Regions from separate parts of the Homo sapiens genome. Here regions 1 and 3 are each linked to region 2. The links come from fine-mapping of genetic effects on gene expression. A gene starts in region 2. Each other region holds a variant in brackets. All regions are shown on one strand. Distances are between the middles of the regions. Region 1 overlaps SIPA1L3 (signal induced proliferation associated 1 like 3). Region 2 holds the start of ZFP30 (ZFP30 zinc finger protein). Region 3 overlaps ZNF573 (zinc finger protein 573).

Evidence for each region. PIP is the estimated chance that this variant, and not a neighbour inherited with it, causes the effect. A credible set is the group of variants that fine-mapping cannot tell apart.
Region 1: its variant is the best candidate, but not a certain one, in a credible set for the expression of ZFP30 in non-classical monocytes (Schmiedel 2018, PIP 0.54).
Region 3: its variant is the best candidate, but not a certain one, in a credible set for the expression of ZFP30 in whole blood (INTERVAL, PIP 0.77).

The regions. Positions count from the first base shown.
Region 1 is chr19:37,910,280-37,918,462 of GRCh38, reverse strand. All of the region lies in intron 1 of SIPA1L3 (signal induced proliferation associated 1 like 3), which reads right to left. Among named protein-coding and RNA genes, the nearest start is that of SIPA1L3, 7.2 kb to the right of the region's middle. RefSeq lists enhancers at 1,843-2,708, 2,709-3,574, 7,443-7,492, 7,623-7,692. The variant TTG/G (reference allele first, on the strand shown) is at 4,437.
Region 2 is chr19:37,651,204-37,659,386 of GRCh38, reverse strand. It overlaps ZFP30 (ZFP30 zinc finger protein), which reads left to right and starts at 3,922. Exons shown (of 6, transcript NM_001320669.3): 1 at 3,922-3,967; 2 at 4,508-4,675. RefSeq lists enhancers at 3,317-3,366, 2,766-3,753 and a silencer at 3,777-3,966.
Region 3 is chr19:37,761,391-37,769,573 of GRCh38, reverse strand. All of the region lies in intron 4 of ZNF573 (zinc finger protein 573), which reads left to right. Among named protein-coding and RNA genes, the nearest start is that of ZNF573, 14 kb to the left of the region's middle. The variant C/A (reference allele first, on the strand shown) is at 3,518.

The DNA.
Region 1 (8,183 bases), 260 kb before region 2:
CATGGTGAAACCCCATCTCTACTAAAAATACAAAAATTAGCTAGGTGTGGTGGCGCGCACCTGTAGTCCCAGCTAATCGGGAGGCTGAGGCAGGAGAGTCACTTGAACACAGGAGGTGGAGGTTGTAGTGAGCCAAGATCGCGCCACTGCACTCCAGCCTGGTGACAGAGCAAGACCCTGTCTCAAAAACAAACAAACAATCAAACAAACAAAAAACAAAGAAATGAGCTTTCAAACACGCCAAGACCTTTCCTTGCCTTCCTTAGTCCCCCTGCTCACCCTCCTCCCAACTCCCCAAAGACCCCTCTCTTTCCTGGGAGGTAAGGTTCCAGGTTCCAGCAAACCTAGAGGTCAATTTAAGGAGTGGACCTCTCAATCATTCAGGTCTCAAACCAGCACACCGACACCAATGTAAACCCAGAGATTAATGCTGACAAACTGGGACTTCTTTTTTTTTTGAGACAGGGTCTTTCTCCGTCACCCAGGCTGGAGTGCAGTGGCACAATCACGGCTCACTGCAGCCTTGACCTCCTGGCCTAAAGCAATCCTCCCACCTCAGCCACCCATGTAGCTGGGACCACAGGCACAAGCCACCATACCCAGCTAATTTTTTAAATTTTTGTAGAGGTGGAGTCTTGCTTTGTTGTCCAGGCTGGTCTCAAACTCCTGGGCTTAAGCAATCCTCCTGCCTGGGCCTCCCAAAATGTTAGGATTACAGGTATGATCTTCTACGACCGGCCTCAGAATCGATTTTGTGCAACAAGTCCCTCCTATGGTTTTCATTGCTCAAAACTCAGACCCTATCCCCCTTAAACACCCTCCAATACAGCATATAAAACAGGTTTAAAAGTATACACTCTGCACCTGAGCTCAAATGCTGCCTCTGCCACTTCCCAACTTTGAGCAAGTGACCTCTCATTGCCTTATCTCAGCTTCCTCATCTGTGAAATGGGAATAACTGTAGTCCCTGGCACCTCCGAACACAGGCAACACCCACCAACACTAAGCACAGTGCCAGGCACATACAGCAAGTTTGATGGACAGTAGCTCTTTGGTTAGCTATAACTGCTTGTGATAAACCTGCTTTTCATCATACATCTGCCCTTCTCCGCCAAGATAAAACAGGAGTGGCATGTCAGATCTATCACTGAACTACCACCTTTGATTTACACGTGAATCTCATACCCTCGGCCAGTGCTGTCCGATGTGGTAGCCATTAGCCACATGTAGCCACCGAGCACTTGAAACATGGCTGGTACCAACTGAGATACGCTGAAAGTGTAAAATACATATTGTATGTCAAACGCTTAATGTGGAAAAAAGGAAGTAAAATAGCTCACTAATAATTTCTATATTGATTACATGTTGAAATGATGTTTTAGATGAAATAAAATATATCATTAAAATTACTTTCCTGCTTCCTTTTACTTTTCAAAATATGGCTACTAGAAAATTTTTAATTACCTATATGAGCCTCATCAGTGACCCACATTTTTTTTTTTTTGAGAAGGAGTCTCACTCTGTTGCCCAGGCTGGAGTGCAGTGGTGCAATCTTGGCTCACTGCAACTGTCACCTCCAGGGTTCAAGTGATTCTCTGCCTCCGTCTCCCGAGTAGTTGGGATTACAGGCACATGCCACCAGACTCAGCTAATTTTTGTATTTTAAGTAGAGATGGGATTTCACCATGTTGGCTAGGCTGGTCTCGAACTCCTGAACTCAAGTGATCCACCCGCGTCAGCCTCCCAAAGTGCTGGGATTACAGGCATGAGTCACCGCGCTCGGCCCCACGTTATATTTCTAACAGACAGCACTGTTGTGGGCTTTTGAGAACCAGTGTCTTATTCAACTTTATACTGTCAGTGTCAAGCATGGACCCTGACACACAGGGTAGGTGAAGAAATGTTTCACAGATGGACAGATGAAAGATGCTCTCCATACTTTCAGTCTTTTTTTTTTTTTTTTTTTTTTAGACACAGAGTGGTGTGATCATAGCTCACTGTATCCTTGATCTCCTGGGCTCAAGGTGTGGTAGTGCCTGGGCTCAAGTGATCCTCTCACCTCAGCCTCCTGAGTAGCTGGGATTATAGGTGCACATCACCAAGCCTGGCTAATTTAAAAATTTTTTGCAGAGATGAGGTCAGATGCGGTGGCTCACGTCTGTAATCCCAGCACTTTGGGAGGCTGAGGCGGGAAGACCACCTGAGGTCAGGAGTTTGAGACCAGCCTGGCCAACATGGTAAAACCCCATCTCTACTAAAAATATAAAAATTAGCCGGGTGTGGTGGTGGGCGCCTGTAATCCCAGCTACTGTGGAGGCTAAGGCAGGACAGTCATTTGAACCCAGGAGGCAGAGGTTGCAGTGAGCTGTGATCATACCACTATACTCCAGCCTGGGCAACAGAGTGAGAACTGTCTCAAAAACAAAAACTTTTTTTTTTTTTGCAGAGTTGGGGTCTATGTTGCCCAGACTGGTCTTGAACTTCTGGTCTGAAGTAATCCTCCCACCTCGGCCTCCCAAAGTGCTGGGATTACAAGCCTGAGCCACCATGCCCACCCAATATTTTTAGTCTTAAAAGCACCCACTACTGTCCTCACATCTAACCAGGGCTACCCTTCATTCAAAATACGCCCACGCTACAGCAAATCAAAGTGCACACAGGTCATGATGCCGGAGCAGGGACCTGGGGCCCTTACAGGTCCAAGAATCATTGTCTTAGTTGATGGGCTATAGTATGATACTTTAACAGCCCACATGGCTAGTGTGCTTAAAACACCATTTCCAGCTGGGTGCATGGCTCACATCTGTAATCTCAACACTTTGGGAGGCTGAGGCCGTCGGATCACTTGAGGTGAGGAGTTGGAGACCAGCCTGGCCAAGATGGTGAAACCCCATCTCTACTAAAAATACAAAAATTAGCTGGGAGTGGCGGTGGGCGCCTGTAACTCCAGGTACTCAGGAGGCTGAGGCAGGAGAATCGCTTGAACCCAGGAAGCGGAGGTTGCAGTGAGCCCAGATCACACCACTGCACTCCAGCGTGGGCAACAGAGCGAGCCTCTGACTCAAAAAAAACAAAAACAAACAAACAAAAAAAAACACCTTTTCCAGCCAAGTCCCAAGTCCCCTTGCAAAGCTCACCCAAAGGAGACACCCTGCTCCCTCTCCTTGGACACTACACTTTGTTTCATGCTAACCTGTGCCTGGTATGGCAACCAAGCAGTCAACCTTGTTTTACTTGACAGGCTCTGCTGGAGGGTCTTTAGTTTTGAAACCACCACCAAACCATCCCTATCGTGTCTCATTGAGAGCAAAAATGATGCCACAACATCCCAGGCGGCCCCTGCTGCCACATCAATTAGGTACTAAATATAGTCTAAAGTGCTTTGCATGTCAAACAACAAGGAAAGGAAATGCTGTGTCCACTTCCTCAATTTGCCTCTGCCTGGTAAGGAGGGCCCTGGAAGAGTTTAGAATGCAGGTGAAGAGCATGGAGGGTGGAATCAGTTTCCTCATCTGTAAAATGAGTTTGATCAAGTTAATTACTTCACTGGACTACTGTCAGGATTAACTGAGGAATGTGTGAAATGCTTAGAAAAGCATCTAGCACAGAGTAAGCACCAGGTAAGCTGCTATCATTATTATTATTTTATAAAAAAGTAGGCCAGGTATGGTGGCTCGTGCCTGTAATCTTAGCACTTTGGAAGACTGAGGGTGGAGGATCACCTGAGCCCAGAAGTTCAAGATCAGCCTGGGCAAAACAGGTCTCTACAAAAAATAGAAAAAATGTGGCCGGCTGCAGTGGCTCACACCTGTAATCCCAGCACTTTGGGAGGCTGAAGCAGGCAGATCACCTGAGGTCAGGCGTTTGAGACCACCCTGGCCAACATGGTGTAACCTGTCTCCTCTATTAAAAGTACCAAAAAAAAATTAGCCAGGTGTGGTGGCACATTCCTGTAATCCCAGCTCCTTGGGAGGCTGAGGCAGGAGGATCACTTGAGCCCAGGAAGCAGAGGTTGCAATGAGCTGAGATCATGCCACTGCACTCCAGCCTGGGCGACAGAGCAGACCCTGCCACAAAAAAAAAAAAAATTAAAGTAGTATCAACTTGAAAACTAGGAATTAACTCTTCTCCAGTCAAACTGATACTCTTTGTAGCAAACTCACTCCCACCTCCGGGCCTTAACACTTGCTGTTCCCTCTACCTGGAATGTTCTTTCTTCAACTTTCGGCATAGCCAGTGCCACTGCTCATTAAGGTATCAGTTCACATGACTCCTCAAAGAGGCCTGGGAGGCCTTCCCTGACCATCAAAGCTAAGGTAACCACCGCCATCTTGCCCCATCAGCCATTTGCTCTCCACTTACCCTGTTAAATTTTCTCCATCACAGTTAAAACTATCTGAAGAGGCAGGATCAGGATTTTTTTTTTTTTTTTTTTT[TTG/G]AGACGGCCTCTCACTCTGCCGCCCAGGCTGGAGTGCAGTGGTGCAATCTAGGCTCACTGTAAACTCCGCCTCCTCCTGCCTCCTAGGTTCACGTGATTCTCCTGCCTCAGCCTCCCGAGTAACTGGGACTACAGGCGCCTGTCACCACACCTGGCTAATTTTTGTATTTTTAGTAGAGACGGGGTTTCACCTTGTTAGCCAGGATGGTCTCGATCTCCTGACCTCGTGATCTGCCCGCCTCAGCCTCCCAAAGTGCTGTGATCACAGGCGTGAGCCGCTGTGCCCAGCCAGGATTTTTTTTAATTAAAAAAAAAAAAAAGAAAGAAAAGGCTGGGCACAGTGGCTCACGCCTGTAATCCCAGCACTGTACAAGGCCAAGGTAGGCAGATCACCTGAGGTCAGGAGTTCAAGACCAGCCTGGCTAACATGGCAAAACCCCTCCTCTACTAAAAATACAAAAATCAGCAGGGCATAGTGGCGCATGCCTGTAATCCCAGTTACTCAGGAGCCTGAGGCAGGAGATGGGCTTGAACTTGGGAGGCAGTGGTTGCAGTGAGCTGAGATTGTGCCAGCCTGGGTGACAGCGAGACTCCATCTCAAAAACACAAAGTGAAATGATCCTGTTTATTGTGTGTCTTCCCGGGCTAGAATGGCTAGAATGTAAACCCTAGGACAGCAAGGATCTTGTCTGTCTTGTTGACTGCTGAATCCTCAGTGCCTAGGATAGGACCCTGGCTCACAGCAGGGTCTCAACACATCTGTCAACTCAATAAAATAAGAATAGTAGCTAACTGCACAGGGCTAATGACAGCCTAATGTGCTGAAAGTCTTGCAGACATTTCATTCAGTCTCCAGCGACCCCCGAGGTAAAGACTACTATCATACCCATTTTGCCAATGAAGAAAAAAGCTCAGTGCACATCTTACAAGTTAGTGGCTATACTGTGATTTGAACTTGGTCTGCCCGCCACCTAAGCCACCTTCCAACCATGGCACACTTCTCGCAAATATGAGGAGTGATATTTCCCACTGATGCTCCACCACCAGCCCCTCACCCCCACCACCCACTGTGGTCAGGGCACTTTACTGGCTCCTGTCTTCCTGGGCAAATCTCCTCCCTTCTTTCAGCGGCAGCTGGATCCCTCACCTTAGGCCCCCAACATCTCCAAGCGGGATCCCTGCAATATAACTTTTTCTTATTTCTACCTGGTGTTTCAAGTGATTGAGTTGGCTCTTCCTGTGAATTTCTCTGGGTTTGAAAGAACACATGTAGGCTGAGGCGGGAGGATCATTTGAGGCCAGGACTTCGAGACCAGTCTAGGCAACATAGTGTGAGACCCTATCTCTACAAAAATTTAAAAATTAGCTGGGTGTGGTGGTGCACACCTGTAGCCCCAGCTACTAGGGAGTCTGAGGTGGGAGGATCACTTGAGCCCAGGAGTTCAAGGTTACAGTGAGCTATGATGACGCCACTGCACTCCAGCGTGGGCAACAGAGTGACCCTGTCTCTAAAAAAAAGATCACAGCTGGCCCTGCCCTGAAGGCTTGACATAGATAATCTTATGAAACCTCTCAACAACCACCCTATAAGGAAGACACTGGTATCATCCCCATTTTCAGATCAGGACACTAAGGCTCAGAAGGACACATGATTTGCCCAAGGTATCACAACTAATATAGGATAGAGTCACAGTGTGAACCCAGACCATGTGGCCCCAGAGTTTGTGCTTCAGCCACTGGGCCATGCTGCCTATGTGAAAGGATACTTTTTATACTTTTTTTTTTTTGAGACAGAGTGTCACTCTTGTCACTCAGGCTAGAGTGCAGTGGTACAATCTCGGCTCACTGCACCCTCCACCTCCCTGGTTCAAGCAATTCTCCTGCCTCAGCCTCCCAAGTAGCTGGGATTACAGGCTCTCATCATCACACCCTGCTAATTTTTTCTTTTTTTTATAGATGGAGTCTCGCTCTGTCGCCCAGGCTGGAGTGCAGTGGCACAATCTTGGCTCACTGCAAGCTCTGCCTCCCAGGTTCACGCCATTCTCCTGCCTCAGCCTCCTGAGCAGCTGGGACTACAGGCACCGGCCACCACGCCTGGCTAATTTTTTTGTATTTTTTAGTAGAGACGGGGTTTCACTGTGTTAGCCAGGATGGTCTCGATCTCCTGAGCCACCACCAAGGATACTTATTAGATGTGTGTTTGCTGAGGTAAAGAAATCTCAGAGGGGCCAGGCGCGGTGGCTCACGCTTGTAATCCCAGCACTTTGGGAGGCTGAGGTGGGCGGATCACGAGGTCAGGAGATCGAGACCACGGTGAAACCCCATCTCTACTAAAAATACAAAAAATTAGCCGGGCGTGGTGGCGGGCGCCTGTAGTCCCAGCTACTCGGAGAGGCTGAGGCAGAGGAGAACGGCGTGAACCCAGGAGGCGGAGCTTGCAGTGAGCTGAGATTGCGCCACTGCACTCCAGCCTGGGCGATAGAGCAAGACTCCGTCTCAAAAAAAAAAAAAAGACATCTCAGAGGAACAACCTAAAGGACCAGCAGTGGGGGAATGCTGGAATAAAGCGTGGTCTCTCTGCACTGAAGAATGTGGGTACAGCTGTTGAAAAGGATAAGCCAGATCTATATGTAATGACTTGGAAGGACATGCCCAGCCATTAATTGAAAAAACTGGGTTACAAATAGGTGTAGCTTGATCCCTACCCCCTCCTTTTTTGGGGAATGGTATGGGAGGAGGAAGAAAACAGTCGATACACACACACACACACACACGCACATACATACAAACATAATCAATATAAACACAGAAAAAGATAACTGAAGCATCTGTCCAAATCACAAGGGCAGAGAGCACATCCATTTTGTTCATTATGCTATCTCCAAAGCCTAGCAATAGATACTTAATAGATACTCACTGTCTGAATAAATGGTTATCTCTGGCGACATGGGGTTTTGGAGTGGAGGGTGGCACTAGGTATTTTCCCTACACCTCTGTATTGTTTGACACGTTACAACAAGCATGAATTTCTTGCATAACTTTTTTTAAGCTAAATTCAACCCAATCACATACATACACACACGCACAAAAGGTCATGACCAAAATAGTCCTTAAAAAAAGGAAGCAATAGGCCAGGCACGGTGGCTCACGCCTGTAATCTCAACACTTTGGGAGGCCAAGGTGGGTGGATCACCTGAGGTCAAGAGTTCGAGGCCAACATGGCGAAACCCCATCTCTACTAAAAATACAAAAATTAGCCAGGCATGGTGGCATATGCCTGTAATCCCAGATACTCAGGAGGCTGAGGCAGGAGAATCGCTTGAACCTAGGAGGTGGAAGTTGCAGTGAGCTGAGATCGTGCCACTGCACTCCAGCCTGGGCCACAGAGCAAGACTCTGTCTAAAAACAACAAAAAGGAAGCAATATCAGTCTTGAAGAATACACAAATGCACAAACTGGTACAACAGCCTCTCATTCTTTTTTTTTTTTTTTTTCTGAGACAGGGTCTCACTCTGTCACACAGGCTGGAGTGCAATGCTGCAATCACAGCTCACTACAGCCTCAACATCCCGGGTAGCTGGGACTAGAGATGTGTGCCACCACACCTGACTAATTTTTTGTAGAGATGGGGTTTCGCCATGTTGCCCAGGCTGCTCTCAAACTCCTGGGCTCAAGTGATCCACCCACCTCAGCCTCCAAAGTGCTGGGATTACAGGCATGAGCCACTGCACCCTGCCAAATAGCC
Region 2 (8,183 bases):
AAAAACATATTAAGAGACCTTCATATTTTATGAAGTTATGGTACAAGAATTAGTTTCATTATTTTCATTCATTCAACTGTAAACACATTTATACATTCTCTTGTGTATCTGTAATTTTTCAGAATTAATTTTAAAAAATAATAATTGGGCTAAAAAAGGAGTGAAAATACTGAAACAGCTAGAGAACATCTCTCAGCAAGTTGGAAGTTAAGACCAAGGGTTTTTTTCAGAATACAACCTGATGAATTTGAAAGGAATAGAAAACTGTAAATAAAAAGGTAGAAAATACACCCTGAGAAGTCATCAGAAGAAACTGATAAAGATAAAAGTGGAAATTAATGAAACAGAAAACAAAAGCAGTAACTAAAAGAAATAAGCTGGTGTAAAAAAAAAAAGTCCGGTACAAGCAAAATCTTACTTAAAAGAGTAATGAAAGGCTTCTCCATAAACAGAGTAAGTAGATGCATTGATTTCCCATTTCTCCTCTGCAAAAAAAAAATATTAAAATGAATATATTAAGTAAAGGAATATAAAAAGTATTAACATGTAAGAACCAAAGAAAATGAGGAGGGAGACTGCAAAAACAAAACAACAACAACAACAAAAAAAAACGCACACACAAAAACAGGAGAACTGTCCAAGAATTCTGGTATGAAAGGGCTTAGGAGTCAGATTTCTATTAATGAGGCAATTCAATGCATAAACCCCTGGAAGCTCAGGCACCAAAGAGCATGACCCTGGAGAGATGTGGATCTGGAAACAGGAGATTGGTTGAAAGTTTGAACACAAACTGGCTGTTCACCTTTTTTACTTTTCCTCTCTTATGTGATCAAATACACTAAATTGGGGTAGGGGGGTGATCTGTGGATAAAATGACCCAGAGAGGATGTATACCTGCATAAAGAAAGACAGAACTGAGTCATAGGCAAACTAAATGAAAAACTACACTCAAAACTGGGGGCCTCTGAGAGGTCTTTGAGGTCTCAGACATCACTAACTCACTGTCCTCAAAGGAGGAACTAAAGAACAGCTCACATCTCCCAATGAAACGGCTGGCTCTGAAGTCAGGTTGAGAAGATTCACTCCATGACTAGAGGCAAGGATTACCACACATTTCAGGGAAGTATCCAGTATAAAAAGAGAACAATTCAAACTTTTTTGTAAAGGGGGAATTTGATTTGGATATAAAAGACAAAAATAGATTAAAAAAAAAAGCACCAGAAAACTTTAAACTAATTGCCCTCTGAGAGATTAGAGGTTTTATTGCATCCATAATAAAAACGAAAGGCTATGAAGAAATAAAAATTACAGAATATAAAGGAGCTCTTGGAAATTAGAAATGATTATCAAATTAAAAATAAATACAATTGTACTGTAAAGTCAACAAAATTTCCCAAAGTAAGAGAAAAAGAGAAAAAATAGGAGACAAAACATACAGCTCATGAAAAGTCCTTCCATGAAATACAAATTCCAGGACAAGAGAACAAAAATTCAGAAGGATAGAGGACTGTCAAAAAAGAAAAAGAGGAAGAAAAATGTTCAGACCTATAAAGTGCTGCCCTATAACTAGCAGAAAAAAATGTTTAAACATACATGCCAAGTGCATAAATTATGAAATGTAAGTGCATTGTGGATTACAGGTGGCAATAGGTATCTGGGCGTTGGTGGGAGTGGGACATGAAATTAAAAAGGAACAGAAAACAATTGGTATTAGACTTGACAACATTAGCTACTAGAACACTGTGAAGTGACGCCTCCAAATTCTGAATCTAGGCAAAGTGTGAAGGCAGAATAAAGACATTTTCAGGCCCAGCGCGGTAGCTCACGCCTGTAATCCCAGCACTTTGGGAGGCCTAAGTGGGCGAATCACCCGAGGTCTGGAGTTCGAAATCAGCCTGGCCAACATGGTGAAACCCCATCTCTACTTAAACTATAAAAAAAAAAAAAAAAAAAAAAAAATGGCCAGGCGTGGTGGTGCACGTCTTTAATCCCAGCTACTCGGGAGGCTGAGGCAGAAGAATCGCTTGAACTGGGGAGGCAGAGGTTGTAGTGAGCTAAGATTGCACCACTGCACTCCAGCCTGGACAACAGAGTGAGACTCCGTCTCAAAAAAAAAAAAAATTTCAAACATGAAAGAACTAAAAAACATCTTTAATACATGCATCTTAAGGAACTTATTGGAAAAGAACTTTAGCAAAAATTAGCTGAATTCTAGGAAACAAGAATCAAACTTAGGAAAACAATGACGGTAAATTTTAGGACAACTGTACAGTCCAATTGCAGCCACAGAATGGAAGAGAGATTCTACTCCGATGTTTGAACCACTGAAAAAATAATCGATGAACATTTAACATATCTGTTGGAACATTTCTAAAAAATAGCAACAAGTACAAAGAAAACCAATAAATCCTTGATAAACAAACTCATGTAAGAAATGTACTTGGTTTTAAAGAGAAAATAATTGACGTAATTAGTACATATACTCCACATATTCACTTAACCAAAACTTGAGATATCTGGAAGAGATCAAGGAGAAAGAAGAAAGTTTTAAATATTTTAAATGAAGTATTACAATGAACATTTTTATTACTAAAGGTATTTTTAGCTACGAAAATGAGGCTGATCTTTCAACTAAAGATCAAAGAAACTTACTATCCAAGAATGCTTGGAGACATTGAATTTATCCAAGAGTTCATCCAGGAACAAAGGGGAAAAAACAAATCTCATTTGTTAGAATATTCCAAGACCAGGTATGGAAGAAAATAAAATGCCTCTCCCTCCCGTTTCATGGTGTCCTATTCAATTTTCTGACACAGTCCTACAATTCCATCATTTGGAAGTAATAGCAACCTTATTCCTTTCCAATTTTTTTTCCTGCAATTATTTTACTTGCCTAACACCACAGTCCTGAGGGCACACAAGGGCCAGATGCAGATAATCAAAATCCCAACACTCAGTTTCATAGGGACCCACAAACCGTCTCCATGGAAAACCAGAACCAGAAGCGCTGCCCTATCAGAAGGATTCTGGAAATAACGCTGGATGAGGCAGAGCCACAGTCACAGATCCGATGTCAGGTACGTCACAAACGCAGACACAAACCGCAAAGACCCCAGAGACCCGCTACAGCCAGCGTCAGAGTCAGGCACCACCGCGCAGCCTTCTCTGCGGCACCATCCTAATCCCCCGCTAGAGAACGGCACACGCGCACGCAGCAGCCCCGTGCACGGAAACACTACTCCGCCAGCGGCCAGGCACTCGGTCCAGGTACGCGGGGGCGCGGCGGCCGTCACTCAGCAAACACCACAGGCAGCACGCGCCGCGCCTTGGTCCAGGCTCGCGATACTGGGGTTTCCTCCATCCAACTCACGCCAGGGTCACGGCTACAGGCCTAGATTTGAACACTCCATCCCCATCGGGATCCTGTAGCCAACCTCCACCCTCCTCCAAACCTCCCGACCCCTCGGCAGGTGCGGCCCCACACTTCTCCCTTGCTCCCTGAAGGGCCCCAGCGTTCGCCCCCCGCGCGCTTGCGCACTCGAGGCAGAAGCCGATTTCCAAAGGTTCCGGTGAGGCGTCGCTGGGGGCGGGGCGGGGCTCGCAGCCTCCGCCTGTCTCCGAGCCGAGAACCAAATGAAAAATAAAAAGGCGGAATATTGTTTTTTTAAATTTTGGACCGCAGTGTCCACAGGGGAGCAGGCCTGGATTATCTTTAATGGCACTGGTCAGTCACGGGGCGGCCATTACAGGTAGAGGCCTGAGGCGAGGGACACTGCGGCCCCTCTGGCTCCGTCTCCCCGGCCCGACTATCCCCGCCGAGACCCGGCCCCACGCGCCCCTCCCGGCCCGGAGCAGCTGCGGGACTTGCCTCCGCCCCCCCGCGCGCTAGCGCATTCGCGACGGAGACAGGCGCTCTCCCGTATTCTGGCGCCGCTGACTCCCAGGGCTGGGCTATCCTCTGAGTCGGGTGAGGCTGGGGCTGGGAGCCGGGCGCCACTGTGGCCGCTGCTTTTCTGAGGGAAAAGAGCGCGGAGTGGGCCAGGTTTTGCAGGCCGGGCCAAGGTGGAGAAAAGGTTCCTGTGGAGCCTCAGGCCGGTGTGCTTTTTTTCCCGGGACTGAGCTTCTGCAGCCCTGAGGCCTGGAGGCCCGGGCGGTAGTAACTGTGCCGGACCAGGTTCGTGGGTGCGGCCTGTGGTGCAGTTGGAGACCGAGGCCCCGCGCATCCTCGTCCGCGCTTCAGCCACTTAGGCTCGGCCGTAGCGAAAAGGCCCAAGAGGGAAGTCAGAGGTGAACGCCCCAGGATGAAGGTCCCCTGCAAAACGCTGGGACCTAGATTTGGGGTGGGTGTCTGGGGTCTAGGAGGACACGCTGGACAGTTCCGAAAAGACACAGTGGGTGGTCCCGGGCGTGGGCAACCGGGTGCGGAACTACAGCGTACCCGGAGCTGCGAACCCAGACGCGGGTGACTGCTGACCCTCTGCCCTGTCGTTTCCATTTGTGCATGCAGGTGGCGGTTAGTTGGGGCCAGGGAAGCGTGGAGGGTGGGTTCCAATCGAGTCAAGAAAAGCCTGGGGTGTCCTGAACTCTGCCTGCTTCCCCAGCCCTGCCAGTTTCCAGAGAAGGCGCTTGAGAAGGAGAAACGAATCGCTGCTGCTCTTCTAAAAGCCGGTTCCCTGTGAGTTCGTGCTGCTGCTTTGTTTCTGTGAAATGCATTCGAGTTCCTTCCGTTTAAAATCCTGCTTAGGAATGATCTATTTATTCATTGATTTGGGCCTTAGGATTTCCCTACCTAGTTAACGGCAGGGGACCTAATTAATAGATTTCCCGTTGTTAGTGCCCACTTCATGCTGTTCTATAGTTAGACACATGGTTAGTTAACTGTAGGCTGCAAATTCAATTACTCTGTGAGCGCTGTTTTTCTAAGGATCTTGATGATATGGAAATACCCGTGCTGGAGATTAATGTTCATACTTTGTTTTTATTTGTTTTTTAGGGTTTAGATATGTTTAATGGTTCTGGGGTAGGAGTGGAGATTTCTTTTTTTCCAGGAAATTCATGAGTGGAAGTTTTTGGTACCAGCCAGATGTGGTTTGAGGTCTGGCAGCATGAGTTTATTTTGGGTATATCTTGGATCGACTGAGGGAGGTGTAGTGTAGTGGTTAAGAATTTCGAGCCTAGATTAAGTGGAATTGAATCCTGACTGCCACTTAAATCTGAACGAGTTTAAGCAATCTGTGCTTCAATTTCCTCAGAATTGTAATAGTGTATACTTTACGGTGTTGTTTTGAAGATTACATGAATTAATATTTGTGAAGCTCTTAGGAGAGTGCCTGGCACATAGTGAGTCCTTAATTCATACTAGCTACTGGTATTAAAATGATGATGCTCAGTCATTTCCTATCAGCTTTGTGTATTTCCAAGACCAATGCAAATGTGAAGGTAATTATGATGGATGCTTGCAAGCAGGAAAATGAGCCAGACCCTGCAGTGGACCAGAACAGGGATTGGTAACATAAGTCCTTGGACTCTGTTTATGAGCTTTCAGGGCAACAAAGATATTTTAAGATTATATACAGAATTGTTGTATGTATTTGTAAATGGTTAATTTTTTCAGTGGAGCGAGGAAGTCTATCATTTCATGGTATTATCAGAGTTGTATAAGCTCCAACAACATTGATTCTCACTGTCTAGAAATGAAATAACTGGTAATGACTTTCGGGATGTTCTTTTATAAAATTAATATCTAGCAGTATGGAAATGGTTAAATCACACTCCATGTGATGGAATGTTATGCAATAATAAGAATTTTGTTTATATTTAGTCATAAGAAAAAAGTATAATGTAATATTGAGAAGTATTGTTGTAAATAAGAATCATCAAGAAATTGTTACATATGAATCTTGTATACTACAATAAAGGTTTTTAAGTTATTTTGCAACAATGTAATATTTAAATATTAAATTGCTAGGTATTTAATGATTAGTTATTTATTGGAGCTGAGGAGGGGTAAATGCAAGTTATTAAGTAGCTGCTGTGAAATGAGCATTTGTTTTTGTCTGCAGTTCTTACTGGCTCTTAATCACTTTGGAAATGACATGAACCAGGATTGTAATCCTTCACAGAACTATTTCAGGGTCTTGATGAGATACAATACTCAGGAACTGGTAGAAATTATTTTTTCAGTCACACTGATTTCCCTGTTGTCACCATTTATGCAGGGCCTGTTTAATCACAATTTTCTTTTTTCTTTCTTTTTTTTTTTTTTTTTGAGACGGAGTTTTCGATTTTGTTGCCCGGGTTGGAGTGCAATGCCGAAATCTCAGTTCACTGCAACCGCTGCCTCCCGGGTTCAAGCGATTCTCCTGCCTCAGCCTCCCAAGTAGCTGGGATTACAGGTGCCCGCCACCATGCCAGGCTAATTTTTTGTATTTAGTAGAGACGGGGTTTCACCATGTTGGTCAGGCTGGTCTTGAACTCCTAACCTCAAGTGATCCACCTGCCTCGGCCTCCCAAAGTGTTGGGATTACAGGCGTGAGCCACCGCACCTGGCCCACAATTTTCTTAATGACTGTAAGGTAGCCTATCTTCCCAGTCATTTAAAATTTTTTGGAATAGCTTTTTAAAATATTTCTGATGACAGAATTAATACAAGCTTGTGAAATATTAGTAACTACGGAACCTATAAAGAAAATTAAAATGATCAATGGTCCCAATGTCCAGAAATAATAATTATTAATGTTTTAGAGCATATTTTCCCAAAATATTTCTACAAGTCTGTGTGGTTTTGTGTGTGGTTTTATTTATTTATTTATTTTTTTGAGGTGGAGTTTCGCTCTTGTTTCCCAGGCTGGAGTGCAGTGGCGCGATCTTGGCCCACTGCAACCTCCGCCTCCCGGGTTCAAGTGATTCTCCTGCCTCAGTCTCCCAAGTAGCTGGGATTACGGGCACCTGCCATCACGCCCAGCTAATTTTTTGTATTTTTAGTAGGGACAGGGTTTCACTATGTTGACCAAGCTGGTCTCGAACTCCTGACCTCAGACAATCCACCTGCCTCAGCCTCCCAAAGTGCTGGGATTACAGGTGTGAGCCACCGTACCCGGCTGGTGGTTTTCTCTCTGAAGAACAGGCTAATACTAATTGCAAATTTAAAAGAAACTAAGACCTCTAGTTCTTAGTTTAAAAGAGGAATTCAGTGCTCTTGTGGATTATATGACTCCATGGATGTATGGAGAAAAGTGACATCCCAGTGATCCACTTCTGGTTTGACAGACCTTCCAAATATTTACAGTTCTTCAAATTATGGAAATTTCAGTTAAGTTGAGATTTAAATCTGATTTTAAAATTAATTTTAAAATCTCAGAATTGAAATTTTAAGAGTTTTTTTCATCTGTTCAAGTCTGTTTCCCTTTAATGGTCTAAAAAATCTAATCATATATTGTTTTGTAAACTTTTTTTTTCTTTCAGTGTATCTTGAATATTTTCCTTTCCTTAACTGTTTTCTAAAATTTAGCATTTAGTGATTACCTTAGTATTCCATTTTATGGATGTTTTGTAAATTTTTTAAGAAATGACTTATTGGACAGGAATATTCCAAACTGCCCAAGCAATTCCTTCAGGAGGATTTCTGGCTCCTATGACTTGATCAACTTTTCACCTCAGAGTCATGTGAATTTCAGAGTTAGGCATATTTAGGAATTGACTTTTGCCAGGTGGGATACAGGTATTTGAAGTATTTGACTGTATTTCTGAAGGATTGATTTTTCATTCTTAGAATATAAAATAGACAGCTGTGCTATTTTTTTTTTTTTTTTGAGATGGAGTCTTGCTCTGTCGCCCAGGCTAGAGTGCAGTGGCGTGATCTCGGCTCACTGCAACCTCCGCCTCCCGGGTTCAAGCAATTCTCCTGCCTCAGCCTCCCAAGTAGCTGGGACCACAGGCACATGCCACCATGCTCAGGTAATTTTTTGTATTTTTAGTAGAGATGGGGTTTCACCGTTTTAGCCAGGATGGCCTTGATCTCCTGACCTCGTGATCTACCCGCCTTGGCCTCCCAAAATGCTGGGATTACAGGTGTGAGCCACTGTGCCCGGCCAGCTGTGCTATTTTATACCAGGAGCTTCATCCTTCAATTACATGATTCGGGGAAATGAATTAATGATAATTTCTTAGAAAACTAAACTTAC
Region 3 (8,183 bases), 110 kb before region 2:
TTGTATTTTTAGTAGAGACACGGTTTCACCATGTTGGCCAGGCTGGTCTTGAACTCCTGACCTCGTGATCTGCCTGCCTCAGCCTCCCAAAATGCTGGGATTACAGTTGTGAGCCACTACACCCAGCCTCGTTTTTCTTTAGTGCAATATTTTACCTGTATTTTGGACTCAACTGTTTTTCCAGCTCCCCTTTTGCACACACACACAACACACATATCAATGTAGTGATCATGAGGAAGACATGTAAGGTCCTTATCCTCATGGAAATTTACATTGTACTAAAGAACACATAAAAATAAACAGGTAGGCTGGGCGCAGTGGCTCATGCCTGTAATCCCAACACTTTGAGAGGCCAAGGTGGGTGGCTCAGGAGGTCAGGAGTTCAAGACCAGCCTGGCCGGTCTTGAATGGTGAAACCCCGTCTCTACTTAAAATACAAAAATTAGCCAGGCATGGTGGCAGGTGCCTGTAATCCCAGCTATTTGGGAGGCTGAGGCAGGAGAATCGCTTGAACCCAGGTGGCAGAGGTTGCAGTGAGCCGAGATCACGCCATTGCACTCCAGCCTGAGCGACAGAGTAAGACTCTGTCTCAAAAATAAAATAAAATAGGCCGGGCGCAGCGGCTCACGCCTGTAATCCCAGCACTTTGGGAGGCCGAGATGGGTGGATCACGAGGTCAGGAGATCGAGACCATCCTGGCTAACACGGTGAAACCCCGTCTCTACTAAAAATACAAAAAAATTAACAGGGCATAGTGGCGGGCGCCTGTAGTCCCAGCTACTCAGGAGGCTGAGGCAGGAGAATGGCATGAACCCGGGAGGCGGAGCTTGCCGTGAGCTGAGATTGCGCCACTGCACTCCAGCCTGGGCGACTGAGAGAGACTCCATCTCAAAAAATAAATAAATAAATAAAATAAAATAAGCAGGCAAACAACTACTATTAGGCAGTGGAATAAGCAATGGTAGAAAGTAAGCAGAGGTTAGGCCATTTTGGATGAGATGGCTGGGGACAGCTTCTTTGGGGCAGTAGTATTTGGAAAGAGACATGGTATAAGGTCACAAGCCATGTGTTTATCTGGGGAAGAATATTCCAAGCTGAATAAAGAGCTTAGAAGGCTAAGGAGATGGCTGAAGCATTGGAGGGAAGGAGTATGGATAGTCAAGGGAGGGTAATAGAGAGAGCTATGTGAGTTTGAGGAGCACCAAAGTAGACCAGAATAGAGATCCTAAGAGGAGAGTGACGAGAAATGAGGTCACATTGTTAGGCGTAGTCAGATCACATGAGGTATTGTTGAATTTGAATTTTTGGGAATAAGAAGGATTAGAACCAATGATGTAATTGTTTTCAAGGCATTTTTAAAAACATTAGACAGATTCAGAGAACAACATATAACACATGAGTAGCTTACTGAGTCTTACAAGTTAAACAATCATGTCACCACAGCCGTGTCAGGAGTTAAAACTTAAAAATTTTTTTTTATTTTAATATAATTTTAGAGTTACAGAAAGGTTATAATAATGACATACAAGATTATTTTATACCCTCCAAGCAGTATTTCTAAACAAGGAGAGAGTTTCTAGTTGATTCTGAAGTCCTCCACATGTCTGCAACCAGTCACAATCTCCTTCCTCCTGCTAAGTGTAACCACTATTCTGATTTTAATGGTAATAAGTTCCTTCCTTTTATTTTTTCTCCAATTTCAAGTCTTTTTAAGTTTTCGCAAGTCTCTAAGTTTTGTCTTCATCTTTCTTTGTGTTCTTAACCCCTTATTTGCTGAAGAAACATCTTCCATTCTATTTTTTGCTGATGCCATCCCTGAGATTTGCTTAAATATGTTCTCTGACCCCTCTATATCCTCTAAATAAGTAGAGGGGTCAAGAGGCTTATGTATCTGAGTCCAGAGCTTATACTGCTCACTGCACAACAGCCAGTAAGTCAAGAGGTAAGGTGTTAGGGCAAGGAACTTTATTTCAGAGAGCCAGCAAAGCGAGAAGATGGCAGGCTAATGTCCTAAAGAACCATCTTAAAAGGCATGAATCTCTGCCGGGCATGGTGGCTCACGCCTGTAATCCCAGCACTTTGGGAGGCCGAGGCGGGCAGATCACAAAGTCAGCAGATCGAGACCATCCTGGCTAAAACGGCGAAACCCCGTCTCTACTAAAAAAAAAATACAAAAAATTAGGTGGGCGTGGTGGCGGGCGCCTGTAGTCCCAGCTACTCAGGAGGCTGAGGCAGGAGAAGAGCGTGAACCCGAGAGGCGGAGCTTGCAGTTTGCCGAGATCGCGCCACTGCACTCCAGCCTGGGTGACAGAGCGAGACTCCGTCTCAAAAAAAAAAAAAGGAATGAATCTCATGCCGTTTTTTATGTTGGCGAAGGGGGAACTAGGAGGAGGTTGAGGTCAGGAGGTGACTGGCGACTACAGATATCTGGGTGTCAGCAGGGGTCCGAGAAGGTTGCACAACGTTGTCCTCGGTCAGGTCACAATGCTCCTATAAATCTTTAACATAACGTTGTTACTTGTATGTACACCCTCCCTATCTCCTTGAGAATTATTAATAGTTTTGGAAAGGGATTATTATCCTTGCTTTAAAGTTATAGTATAAATTAAATACTCCCATAGTTAACTTGGCCAGCGTGCAGTTATGAGCAAACGCCATTAGCTTGTGAGGTTAGAAGTAAGATGGAGTCAGCTATGCTAGATTTATTTCACTGTTACACTTAATCGATTTTGATTCAGTTTATTTTATTTATTTTATTGCAAGACAACTTCCTGGGCAGTATTGTATGCATCATATGTTGGCACTTTTCCTGCTCCCCTCATACCAGACAGAGCTGGGCTTATGGTTTACTGTGTTAAAGGAAAACACCACCTCTGAAGAGCTTTATATAGTATCTCAGAGGCAGAAGGGCAAGGATGGCTTTTACTGAGAATTAAAAGTTTGGTTTAAGGCTGGTCTTCATGCGGGGACTTGATTAGGATTAGGTAAAGATGAAGACACCACAGTGGAGAATTAGTGGAAACAGCTAGGTTAGAATTTTGAGGTTAGGAATTGAAAATTTTCTAGAGTACAAACTGTTGATGTTTGCCATTTAAGAGTTGATGGATCTTTCAGGAACTTCCAGTAATGAACAATGAAGCCATTTGCCTTTGCAAGAAACTTCCAGAACAGTAAAATTGTGCTGAGGAAAACAGTGGGATGTGTTTATGGAGAGAGTAAGCTACCTGTAGGGGGATTGGTAGGTCCACTTCTCTGTTTCAAGGCTGAGTGTGGGAGTGAATGGTTTAGGTTCTCAGCATAAACCTTCTGGTTGTCTCTCTGTGATTTTTAGCAGTCATTTATGCTCAATGCCTGGATGTATTAATTCATCAGACATTCCAAAATGGTCATATTCTAATTCTAACATTTATTTTTCATTTATTATGTACAAATATAAACAATTTTTTACATCACCTACTATTTGGTAACTACTGATACCATTTGGAAAATAAAGGCTGATCAATATTTGGTCTTTTCT[C/A]TTTTCTTTTTTTTTTGAGATGGAGTTTTGCTCTTGTCGCCCAGGCTGAAATGCAATGGTGTGATCTTGGCTCATTGCAACCTCCACCTCCCAGGTTCAAGCCATTCTCCTGCCTCAGCCTCCCAAGTAGCTGGGATTACAGGCATGCACCACCATGCTCGGCTAATTTTTATATTTTTAGTAGAGAGGAGGGTTTTGCCATGTCGGCCAGGCTGGTCTCAAACTCCTGACCTCAGATGATCTACCGGACTCGGCTTCCCAAAATGTTAGGATTACAGACATGAGCCACCGTGCCTGGCCCCTAGGATCCTTCATAGGTAACTAGACAGTTTTTGTTTTTGTTTTTGAGACGGAGTTTTGCTCTTGTTGCCCAGGCTGGAGTGCAATGGCACAATCTCAGCTCACTGCAACCTCCGTCTCCCAGGTTCAAGCGATTCTCCTGCTTCAGCCTCCCGAGTAGCTGGGATTACAGGCACGTGCCACCACACCCAGCTAATTTTGTGCTTTTAGTAGAGATGGGGTTTCTCCATGTTGGTCAGGCTGGTCTCGAACTCCCGACCTCCCGTGATCCGCCTGCCTCGGCCTCCCAAAGTGCTGGGATTACAGTCATGAGCCACCACTCCCAGATTTAGACGGTTATTTTATTGCCAGCCTTCTCCCATCTGATATGACAAAGTGTTGCAGGCTTATCTTGTACGTTTCCTGTACCAAGCCTTTAGTCAGCCATAAGTTTGTGAACTATTGGGTTCTTTTAGTGGGAAATGGTATTTTAAGGCCACAGTCTAGCCTCTAGAAGTGCCCATTTTTCTTGGTTGAAGATTGTTATAGGCTTTTTACCAGTTAAAGATAGAAAAATCTGTAAGTGACTGGGTGTGGTGGCTCACGCCTGTAATCCCAGCACTTTGGGAGGCCAGCCTGAGGTCAGGAGTTCAAGACCAGCCTGGCCAACATGGTGAAACGCCATCTCTACTAAAAATACAAAAATTAGCCAGGCATTGTGGCGGCTACCTGTAATTCCAGCTACTGGGGAGGCTGATGCAGGAGAATCACTTGAATCCAGGAGGCAGAGGTTGCAGTGAACAGAGATCATGCCACTGCACTCCAGCCTAGGCGACAAGAGTGAAACTCCGTCTCAAAAAAAAAAAAAAAAAAAAGGCCGGGCACAGTGGCTCATGCCTGTAATCTGAGCACTTTCGGAGGCCAAGGCAGACGGATCACGAGGTCAGGAGATCGAGACCATCCTGGCTAACACAGTGAAACCCCGTCTCTACAAAAAATACAAAAAGTTTGTCGGGCGTGGTGGCGGGCACCTGTAGTCCCAGCTACTCGGGAGGCTGAGGCAGGAGAATGGTGTGAACCCGGGAGGTGGAGCTTGCAGTGAGCCAAGATAGCACCACTGCAGTCCAGCCTGGGTGAAAGAGCGAGACACCGTCTCAAAAAAAAAAAAAAGTGACTCATGCCTGTAATGCCAGCACTTTGGGAGGCCAAGGCGGGCAGATCACGAGGTCAAGAGATCGAGACCATTCTGGCCAACATGGTGAAACCCCGTCTCTATTAAAAGTACAAAAATTAGCTGGGCGTGGTGGCACTGGTCTGTAGTCCCAGCTACTAGGGAGGCTGAGACAGGAGAATTGCTTGAATCCGGGAGATGGAGGTTGCAGTGAGCCGAGATCGGGCCACTGCACTCCAGCCTGGTGACAGAGCGACACTCCGTCTTAAGAAAAAAAAACAACAAAAAAAAAAAACAAAAAAAAACTCTAAGTATACATATATGTATGTGTTTACATATTTACATAAAAATAAATTACCTAATGAGTTTATATGGCAACTTCCTGGCCAAACTTAGAACTAAATGGTGTTTAATTGAAATTTTCTGTCTTTGATCTGTATCTCTTATTCCTTAGTACCAATTCTCCAATACTCCAGTGATGATAAAATTAAAATACCATGCAAGTATTCATTTCCTTTATTCTATTTTTTTTTTTTTTTTTTTGAGGCAGAGTTTCGCTCTTGTCGCCCTGGCTGGAGTGAAAAGGTGCGATCTTGGCTCATCGCAACCTCTGCCTCCTGGGTTCAAGCGAGTCTCCTGCCTCAGCCTCCAGAGTATCTGAGATTACAGGCATGCGGTACCATGCCCGGCTAATTTTGTATTTTTAGTAGAGATGGGGTTTCTCCATGTTGGTCAGGCTTGTCTTGAACTCCCAAACTCAGGTGACCTGCCCACCTTGGCCTCCCAAAGTGTTGGGATTACAGGCATGAGCCACCATGCCCAGTCATTTCCTTTATTCTTTATGACACATAAAACATTCTTAGAACATTAGTAACAGCTTTACTACCTAAATGATTACTGAAAACAGTTTTTTAGTATGCCCAGTCTCCTCCCAATTTTTAGTTTCACTGTAATCATATTATGAAATATATAGTCATTGCATCATATGCTTTCTCCCTTATGACTGATATTTACTCTGTTTTTTTTGTTTTGTTTTGTTTTTTTTGAGACAGTCTCACTCTGTCGCCCAGGCTGGAGTACAGTGATGGATCTTGGCTCACTGCAACCTCTGCCTTCTGGTTTCAAGCGATCTTCCTGCCTCAGCCTCCCAAGTAGCTGGGATTACAAGTGTGTGCCACCATGCCTGGCTAATTTTTGTATTTTTACAAAATACAAAGGGTGGTCTCGAACTCCTGACCTCAAGTGATCTGCCCACCACGGCCTCCCAAAGTGCTGGGATTACACTCTTGAGCCCCGGTAACTGGCCCTGATATTTACTCTTAACCTAAGTATATATTTATAATATATATATATATAACTATAGTTGTTCTTGGGTATTTGGTGCTCAGCACCCTGTGGCATGGCTGCAGTGATTCATGCATATGAGACAGCCTTCCAGGAGCTCTCTTTTCCACAGGTGCTAGAGCTCAAGTGCTAGGAAATGAGATCCACACGGCAGGAGTGTGGGCCTCCCCTGACTTAAGAAGACTGGTTTGGCTGGGCGCGGTGGCTCATGCCTGTAATCCCAGCACTTTGGGAGGCCAAGGCAGGTGGATCGCTTGAGGTCAGGAGTTCGAGACCAGCCTGTTCAACATGGTGAAACCCTGTCTCTACCAAAAACATAAAAAATTAGCCGGGTGTGGTGGTGCATGCCTGTAATCCCAGCTACTCAGGAGGCTGAGGCAGGAGAATCACTTGAACCAGGGAGTCGGAGGTTGCAGTGAGCCGAGATCGCACCACTGCACTCCAGCCTTGGTGACAGAATGAGACTCCTTCTCAAAAAAAAAAAAAAAGACTGGCTCCAAAGGTTGGTACAATATCTGGTGTGAGGATTCTTTAGTCATCGTTTCCAGGGTCTTTCAAGGATATGCTCTTTTAAAAAGAAATGTAGTCAAAGAAACCCTAAATATGGTGTTCTCTTCATCTAGCCCCTAGTCCACAGTCCGAGGTGCAACTTGCCAATCAGGGTCATTGTTACCATAAATAATGAAACTTATTAACATAGTTGACACATTCTGTTTTTAGGGAAGCAGCATTGGAGAGTTAGCCTAAGAGTACATCCTCATGCAGAATGGGATTCCCATTCTGTTTAATGTTTAATTACAGAACATTAGAAAATGTTTTGTTAACCCTTTGCCCACATTACCCAAGTGATTTCACAATTCTCTAAGAATATTATCAAATATACAGTCCACATCCAAATTTCTCCCAATTATCCCAGTAATGTCCTTTTATAAATTTTAAAATCTAGGATCAACTGAAGGAACATCTGTCATACTTACTCACCAAATCTATTTAATATCCTTTAATTCAGAGCATCTTCCTTCATGAAATTGACATCTTTGCAAAGTCCAGTCCACTTGATTTCTTTTTAGAATGTCTACAATCTGCAATGTATTATCACTTCCTTATGATTAAATTCAAGCCCAACATATTTTGAAAAATTGCCCCCAGGTGATGTTCTATTCTTCCCATTGTATCACATGAGGAGACAATAATAGTTTGTTCCACTGGCAATGCTAATATTATAATTTGGTGAAATAAGAATTTGTGCCTTAGGCAATGCTAATATGATATAACTTGTTTGAGATGCTTTTCATAATTGTATCTGTCCGGGCCAAGGAAAAACTTCTTTTTCACCCTCTGAAGTTTCACTGAAAATCACTGACAAAAGGCAGATTGAGAAGAAAAGGCATACAAATTGATCTAATCATACTTTTTCATGACACAGGAGCCTTTAGAAAGAAGATCCAAAGGTACAGGGGAAATTACCTATTTTTATGCTTAGGTTTAACAAAGTATGGACAGCTATGTAGAAACAGGATTGGGCAAAAAGGGTGTGATCTAATGCTAATAGCCTGAGTAGGGAAACCCAGCAAGGCCTGTCTGTCTAGGTTCTTCTTGGCCTCTCAGAACACGTATTCCTTCCTTCCGGAATGGGGGACACTCTCTGGAATGGGGGTCTTATGACCAACAGTCAAACAAAGTAGGCCAGGGAATTTTTTATGGCCAGTTTTTACCCAAAAAGGCAGGGGAAAGTTAGAGTAATATTTTTAGGTTTTATGAGTAGCTCTGGGGACAAGGGGTTCTGGTTTCCATGACTTGCCTTGGGGAAGAGGGCTTCTAGTCTTTATGGTTAGCCTAGGGGGAGAATGGGACTGAGAGACAGGAGGGCAA